Homo sapiens: one gene and its partner. The protein of the gene in region 1 purifies or fractionates together with the protein of each later gene. This does not show direct contact. Each region holds a gene or a part of one and is shown on either strand. Other genes may lie near its edges.

Region 1 (3,831 bases):
CTCTTCTGAGTTCTGTGTTTTCTTTGTTTAGTTTATGGCTTTATTTATTTTCAAACTATGTTATTAAGGATGAAATAGACTTAGGATTATGATATATTTAAGGTGGACTGGTCCCTTTGGCATAATGAAATGCTCCTTTTCACTTCTAGTAGTCCTTTTTGCCTTAATGCTTTATTTGAAATTAGTGTATCTACACCAGCTTTCTTTTTCCATCCTTTCATTTTCAACATTTTGATGTCCTTATATTTAAAGTATGCCTTTTTTAAGCTACACATGGTGGTGGTAGTTGTTTTTCATGAAGTCTGAGGATCTTAGACTTTTACTAGGTTTATTTAATCTTTTTGTATTTAATTTAATTACTTCTATATTTGGGTTTATATCATCTTATCATCTGTTATCTATTGACCCATCCATTTTTCATACTTATTTATTTTGGATTAACCAAATATTTTTATTAATTTATAGTTCTCTTATTAACTTGCTAGATATGCATTCATTCCCTGTTATTTCAGTTGTTACACTGGAGATTATAACTTGTATCCTTGATTATAACCTAACCAGAACATTACACTTCATAATAATCCTAGAACAACAGAATATTTTAACTCCATGTAAGACCCCCTAGCTTTTGTGTTTTTATTGTCTTACATTTCAATTCCATATATTTAACTTAAACTTCACTAAACTTAAACTTTCACAGAAAATTATGACTACTGTTTCGGATAATCAATACTAAGCTATAGTGTATGCTCTCCTCCATATTTTCTTTTAGAATCATTTTCCTTCTGCCAAAGGGAGCTCCCTTGCAGTACCTTCTTTTAGTGAGAGCCTGCTAGTGATAAATTCTCTCAATATCTGTTTGCCTAAACTATTTTTATTTCATCTTAATTTTTAAAAGATATTTTCACTGAATATAGAATTGTAGGCTAGCACAGTCAGCAATTTAAGATGTTATGCCATTGTGCATACAGGTGTGGTTTTCTTTGAATATAATCTTAAAAGTTAACAAAGCTTGTGTAATGATGTTCTGAAATCTTCATGAGAATTTTTTTTTAGATACTGTTAGAGATTTTCTCTCTCTTCTTTTTCTGGAATTCAAATTGTATATAAGACAGATCTTTTGACCAGATCCCAAATGTGTTTTATCCTCTTTTCTGACTTGTGCTTCAATTTGGACATTTTCTATTAACTAGCCTTCCAGTTCATTATTGCTATCATCTACTGAGTCCGATATGTTATAAGCCTATTCATTGAGTTCTTATTGTCAGATATATATTTCTCTGATGGCTCCACAAAGTTTACTTGATCCATATACATACATGTACACACACACACACACACACACACACAAACTTTCTAGGGTAATTCTCCACCCTCTTACCTCTTTTGTTCCTTATTTTCTCTATGTTCCTAAGCATAACAATCAAGATGTTCTTGTCTGCTAACTCCAATATCTGGATCAGCTGTGCTTCTGCTTTTTATTGTTTCTTTCCCCTTTGTTATTGATCAAATACTCCTGTCTCTTCATCTACTTAGTTTTTTATTGAATGCTGGTTTATAGAAGTTCCAGATAATGAGAGGATTGACTCCTTGGCTCTGCTGCGCAGATAGAGTAAAAGTACATAATTCAATAAAAAATTCAAAGGGGTAGAGGCTGTATTGTGGGTTTGAGATGACCTGGTCTACATCTGGTTTGCCTCTAATTGTAAGACCTAACTCTCCATGGCTTTCAATTGAGAGTATGATGGGTCTTTGTCACTTCATTACCAAGTGATAGCTTCACTTTCCAGATATTTTCTACTTACCTTTCACCATTCACACCTTTAGAATTTGGCAAATAAAAGGTCAAGTATGTGTTTAAATCCCCTCAAAATTTCAATTTTGTCACTACAGCCCCACAAAATATGAGTTCTATATACCTGGATTCTACACACCTGGTTGAGACCAAATAGCAAGTGTAGCCAACTAAAAAGCAGCTATAGGTCATCGGTGTCAACATGCCACTCATTTCAGGGCTTTGAACTCACACAGCTGATTCTCTTAAGCCAATCCACCTACACACACACACACACACACACACACACACACACACACACACACCCATGGCACAGGGTAGGTCTCTGTCTCTTAAGCACTTCAAAACTCAAGAATTTTCTACTGTGCTTTTCAGAAGTCTCCAGCTTAGCTTTTTAATATCAAGTTCAGAATTGAGTGGAAAAACTAGCTGTGGTTTCTAGGACCATTTAAGTCTCTAATTTTTTAACTCCCTTGAGCAACAGTCAAAGACTCTGCTCCTTTCTCTATCCCCGAGCAAATATTTATTTTGGTTTATAACTTCCAAACCATGTATCAAGGATTAAGCAAGAAGTATGAATTCCTCAAGTGTCCCAGAGGCATTTTAGTGTATAGAGTATGATAATGTGTGTTCAACGAATCGTTTTTGCCTTTAATATGCTTTCTTTTCTTGATCAGGCGTTCCAAAAGATATATATTGGGGTTTAGTTGACACACAACGAATAAAACTCAGCGATCTAATGAGTCATAAGACAAAAACAACTGATAAAACACAGCTAATTAAAAGAGATTATAATATAAATTTTGGTTACTATAGAATTCATCAAGATGAATTAAAAAAGCTTCACTCTGGGGGAAAAAAAACCCTCATTTTCCATATAAATATTTGGTTATAGGGCCCTCTTCTTTAAAATCATCTCTAAATCCTAGCAGGAAAAAGCTAAGTATCAAAATTTTACCTCTTTTGATACATCAAAAGAAAACAGGAGAGGTACCATCATCAGCAACGAAGAGAGTCTCAAATAGACCCAAAGCAATCAAGAAGCTGGCTTTCACTGTCACAACCGGATGAAAGCATCCCAAAACAAAACAAAATAATGACGCTAATAAGTCAGAGGTCTGATGCATCACTTTCTCATTCAGTAGAGATCGCTTGTCTCCTCTTTCATCTTTCCCAGTAGGATAGAGCCCTAAGGAAAATGGATCTGCATTCTAGGATCAGACAAAGATGCGACCAACAGATTTAACACAGTGATGCAAAAGCAAACTGCTATCGATGTAAATATAAACAACTTCACCCTTCTTTCTGCCCCTAACTCTACTCTCTTTGCTTCCACGGTTGCCAAAATGAAGTATTAGTATACTTGTGCTTTACAATAAGCTGCTACAAATGCTTTTTGAATGTTTAAGGTATTATTTATATATATATAGATAGATACGTAAATAAAGTTCTAAAAGTGCTTGCCCTGACCATATGTGAATGCCCTCCGCACTGCGCCATCATAAAACATCATATCCCCATACAAAAGCACCATCTACACTAAAAATACAAACCCCAGGATAAGTGGTGGATATATGTTGCAAACAAGAAGACAACTCTAGTTTAACTATAATTTGGAACGTCTGGCTATTTGAAAGAAAACCCGGTGTCTGACTTGATTTGAAAATGCCTGCAAAAAGCGTTATTTTCATGAAGCTATGAATAACTCAATCTGAAATATTGCTCTTAATTACAGCAACTACAAATAGAATGGCTCGGGATCATTTGTAAGCATGTCAAGTGTTTAGATGGTGTCAAGTGAGTCTTCACAAACATTTACTATAACAAATCTTACATCTTCTACTAAATTATAAAACACTCTTCACCTAAAAACATCCTAGGCTATACTTTTACAGTAGTATCTGCAGGTTATTTTCATGTAACTAACCCAAGAAAGAGCCTGTAAAAGCTATGAAAATGCCAAAGCTCTTAAAAGTGGTAAATATAAAATGCCCTATACTATAGCAGTATATCAAGAAAAAATAATACATGTCATT
Region 2 (3,831 bases), on another chromosome or scaffold:
CACAGCCAACTGTTTTAGACGAACAGCTGCAGAGAGCCCTGCAGGGCCTGCACCAACTATTACAACATCTGCTTCTTCTGCAAACCTTTCCATGTTCACTCCTGGGAGAAATAAAAATTCTGGGATTAATATAACCCAATAATCACATGATAAATCACATGACAGTTAAAAAATATCCACTGTGCTTTAGAGTATTATTTATGGAAATTCTCCCTGTGTTTTGCACAATAATTATATTAAGCATATTACTGTATTAGTATGATTATATTCTTAGGTTCTGTTCCAGTACATACTTTATTTCAGTTTCCATAAACTAATTCTTGGCTTTGAGATTTATTATTATACATTTAGCAAATATTTACTTGTGTAAAATACAGTCACAAGTCACTTAATGACAGAAATGCTTTCTGAGAAATGCATCGTTAGGCAATTTTGCCCTTTTGCAAACATCATAGAGTATACTTACACAAACTAATTGAACAGCCTATGATACACCTAGGCAACAGGGTATAGGCTATTGCTCCTAGGCTACAAAGCTATATAGCATGTGACTGACTATACTGAACACTGTAGGCAACTATAATAGTATGTATGTAACTAAACACATCTAAACACAGAAAAAGTACAGCAAAAATACAGTATAAAATATTTAAAAATGGTATATCTGTACAGGGTACTTACCATGAATAGAACTTACAGGACTGGAAGCTGTTCTTGGTGAGTGACTGAGTGAGCAGTGAGAATGTGAAGGACAAGGACATTACACTACTATAGACTTCATAAACACTGTATGCTTAGGTTACACGCAATTTATAAAAAAATTTTTTCGTCAGTAAATTAAACTTAGCTTACAGTAATGTTTTTATTTTATAAGCTTTTAAATGTTTTAAACTTTTTGACTCTCTTGTAATAACACTTAGCTAAAACACAAACACATTGTACAGCTGTACAAAAAATGGTTTTTATATCATTTTTCTATAAGTTTCTTTCTTTTTAAAATTTTTTTTCCTTTTACCTTTTAAACTCTTTTATTAAAAATTAAGACACAAACACACACATTAGTTAGGCCTACACAGGGTCAGGATCATCAATATCTTTCACCTCCACATTTTCTCCCACTGGAAGGTCATCAAAGACAATAACACGCATGGAGCTGTCATCTCCTATGCAAATGGTAGCTTCTTCCAGAATACCTCCTGAAGGACCTGCCTGTGTCTGTTTTACAGTTAACTTTTTAAAAAAATTAAGTAAGAGTACACTCTAAAATAATGATAAAAGTATAATACAGTAAATACATAAACCAGTAACAGTCGTTTATTATCAAGTATCATGTACTGTACATAATTGTATATGGTAGACTTTTAAAGAACTGGCAGTAGAGTATGTTTGTTTACATCAGACTCACCACAAATAATTGAGTAATGTGTTGAGCTACGATGGTCTGGAAGCTATGTTCTAAAAGATGTCACTAGGTGATAGGAATTTTCAGCTCCATTATAATGTCAAGGGATTACCATTATAATTGTCGTGTTGTTGACTGAAGGGTCATTATGCAGCATGTGACTTGGTAAAGCCACAAAATATTATTAGATGTTTTTAAATTATGAAAAATATTAATACTCTCCTCCACAAAATGAAAACAAAGTATCCAGAAAAGTCTCAGGAATTGTACACAAATTATTACTTACCTTCCCATCTCTTGTCCTTATCCCGGGGATAAATAGTATAATGGGTAGTAATTCGAGGCACAGTAGAAGTTGAAGACCATCTTGTAGCACATAGAGGTAGATAATTTTTCTTAATTTTTAAGGCATGAAAGCACTGATATGCTGCACAAAAATTACGAAAATTATTATCTTCCTTAAAATTAGTTTTCCTCAGTAGACTGAAAAAATATAAGTGAATGACTATACTCAATGAGTATAGTGAAATATACTATAATCTTTCCTAGGTGAACACTTTGAATAGCTTTTTCTCATAAAGCAATGTTTTCAAATCTTAAATATTTTAAAACTAATAAGCAAATTTATTCAATTTAGCTCATGTCAGGCTTAACTATGGATTAGTCATGAAAGCTGAACACTTTGAGAGTAATATGGAGTAGTATAATCACCGTGTTAGGTCAATGGCTTTAAGCACAAACTTTGTTTTATGGTCAGGTTCTTAAGGCAGTATCTTCTTCTTTTTCTTCTTCTTTTTTTTTTTTTTTTTGAGACAGAGTCTCACTCTGTCACCCAGGCTGCAGTGCAGTGGTGCAATCTCAGCTCACCACAACCTCTGCCTCCTGGTTTCAAGCGATTCTCACGCCTCAGCCTCCAGAGTATCTGGGACTACAGGTGTGCACCACCACACCCAGCTAATTTTTGGATTTTTGTTTTTTTTTTTTAGTAGAGATGCGGTTTTGCCATGTTGGCCAGGCTGGTCTCGAACTCCTGGCCTCAAGTGATCTGCCTGCCTCAGCCTCTAAAATTGCTGGGATCATAGGCGTGAGCCACTGCACCTGGCCACAGTATCTTCTGATATCCTTAAAAATGTATACATTTTTGAGTCAGCAAAAAGTATTTTATGGAAATGAACAGAAATATGCAAAGATTTATCTGCAAAAATGTTCACTGAACCTTCTCTGTTGTCCTCAAACCTTCAACTCCACCTCTTCTTTCCTTTATCCAGGGCAGGTACCCTAGCATCAAACCTCATAAAGACAGAAGCAATTAGATGGGAATTTTCTCAACTCCTTGGCAGTAACTTCTAATATAATCTGTATTTGTGCCCATACTTTGTTCATTATCTCAGTTTATAGCAGAAGAGATGTCTTTTCTCCCGTTGATTGTACTCAATGAATATAGTGAAACAGACTATATTCTTCTCCACTGGGGTTAATCTTTCTAGCTGGATGAGAAGGCTTATCTCTCCCGTTGTCTAGAGACATTCCTCCATCTGATACCATCCCTTCTGAGCTTCAATTTTGACTCCCTTCTCAGGCTCTGTTCATCTTGATAATCGTCCCTATCATTAAAAAAAGACAAAGAATCCTCCCATGAAACCACTCTTGACAGATATAGAAACTTATATTTGAAGCTATATTCATTAGAAGTCTGTTATAGGAGAAGGGATAGAATAATTAAAAAAAGAATAAAGAGTTCAGAAATAGAATACACATAGGTATATGGTATATAATAAAGATACCATTTCAAATTAGGGAGAAGAAATGGTTACTCATTAAATGGTGCAGAGATAGCTAGAAAGCCATTCAGAAAAAAAGTATACTCTGCTCCCTAGGTCAAAATGAATTATATTTGATCGAAGATTTTATTAGGGTAGGTTCAAAGTATAGAAGACTATGGTTGGCTGGGCACAGTGGCTCATGACTGTAAATCTCAGCTAAGGCGGGAGGACTGCATGAGGCCAGGAGTTCAAGATCCTCCTAGGCAATATAGCAAGACCTCTTCTCTACAGAAATAAAAAATAAAAAGTAAAAAAATTAGCTAGGTGTGGTGGTATGCACCTGCAGTCCCACCTACTCAGGAGGCTGAGGTACGATGATCACTAGAGCCCAGTAATTCGAGGCTACAGTGAGCTAGGACCACGTCACTGTACTCCAACCTGGGCAACAAGCACCTTGTCTCAAAAAAAAAAAAAAAAGATGGTGATATATCCATAAATTCTTCAATTCTCTCCTCCCTTTGAGTGATGTGGGATGAACTTATTGAGTAGCTTCTAACAAGTAGAGAATGGAAAGTGAAAAATGTTAACTTTACAGTAGAGAAATATGGCAGATATCACTTTAAGCAAGTGATCAAGTTTAATGTTACCAGCAATAAGACATATTGA

The links.
Region 2: the proteins of BCKDHB (region 1) and ETFDH fractionate together in Homo sapiens (co-fractionation; one large-scale study listed by BioGRID). This does not show direct contact.

The regions. Positions count from the first base shown.
Region 1 is NC_000006.12:80,204,061-80,207,891, reverse strand, and holds part of BCKDHB (2-oxoisovalerate dehydrogenase subunit beta, mitochondrial isoform 1 precursor), read right to left. Parts: exon of another isoform or gene 2,422-3,831; intron 1-2,421. UniProt on the Homo sapiens protein: Together with BCKDHA forms the heterotetrameric E1 subunit of the mitochondrial branched-chain alpha-ketoacid dehydrogenase (BCKD) complex.
Region 2 is NC_000004.12:158,678,465-158,682,295, reverse strand, and holds part of ETFDH (electron transfer flavoprotein-ubiquinone oxidoreductase, mitochondrial isoform 1 precursor), read right to left. Parts: intron 1,830-3,831; coding exon 1,689-1,829; intron 189-1,688; exon of another isoform or gene 102-188; coding exon 1-101. UniProt on the Homo sapiens protein: Accepts electrons from ETF and reduces ubiquinone.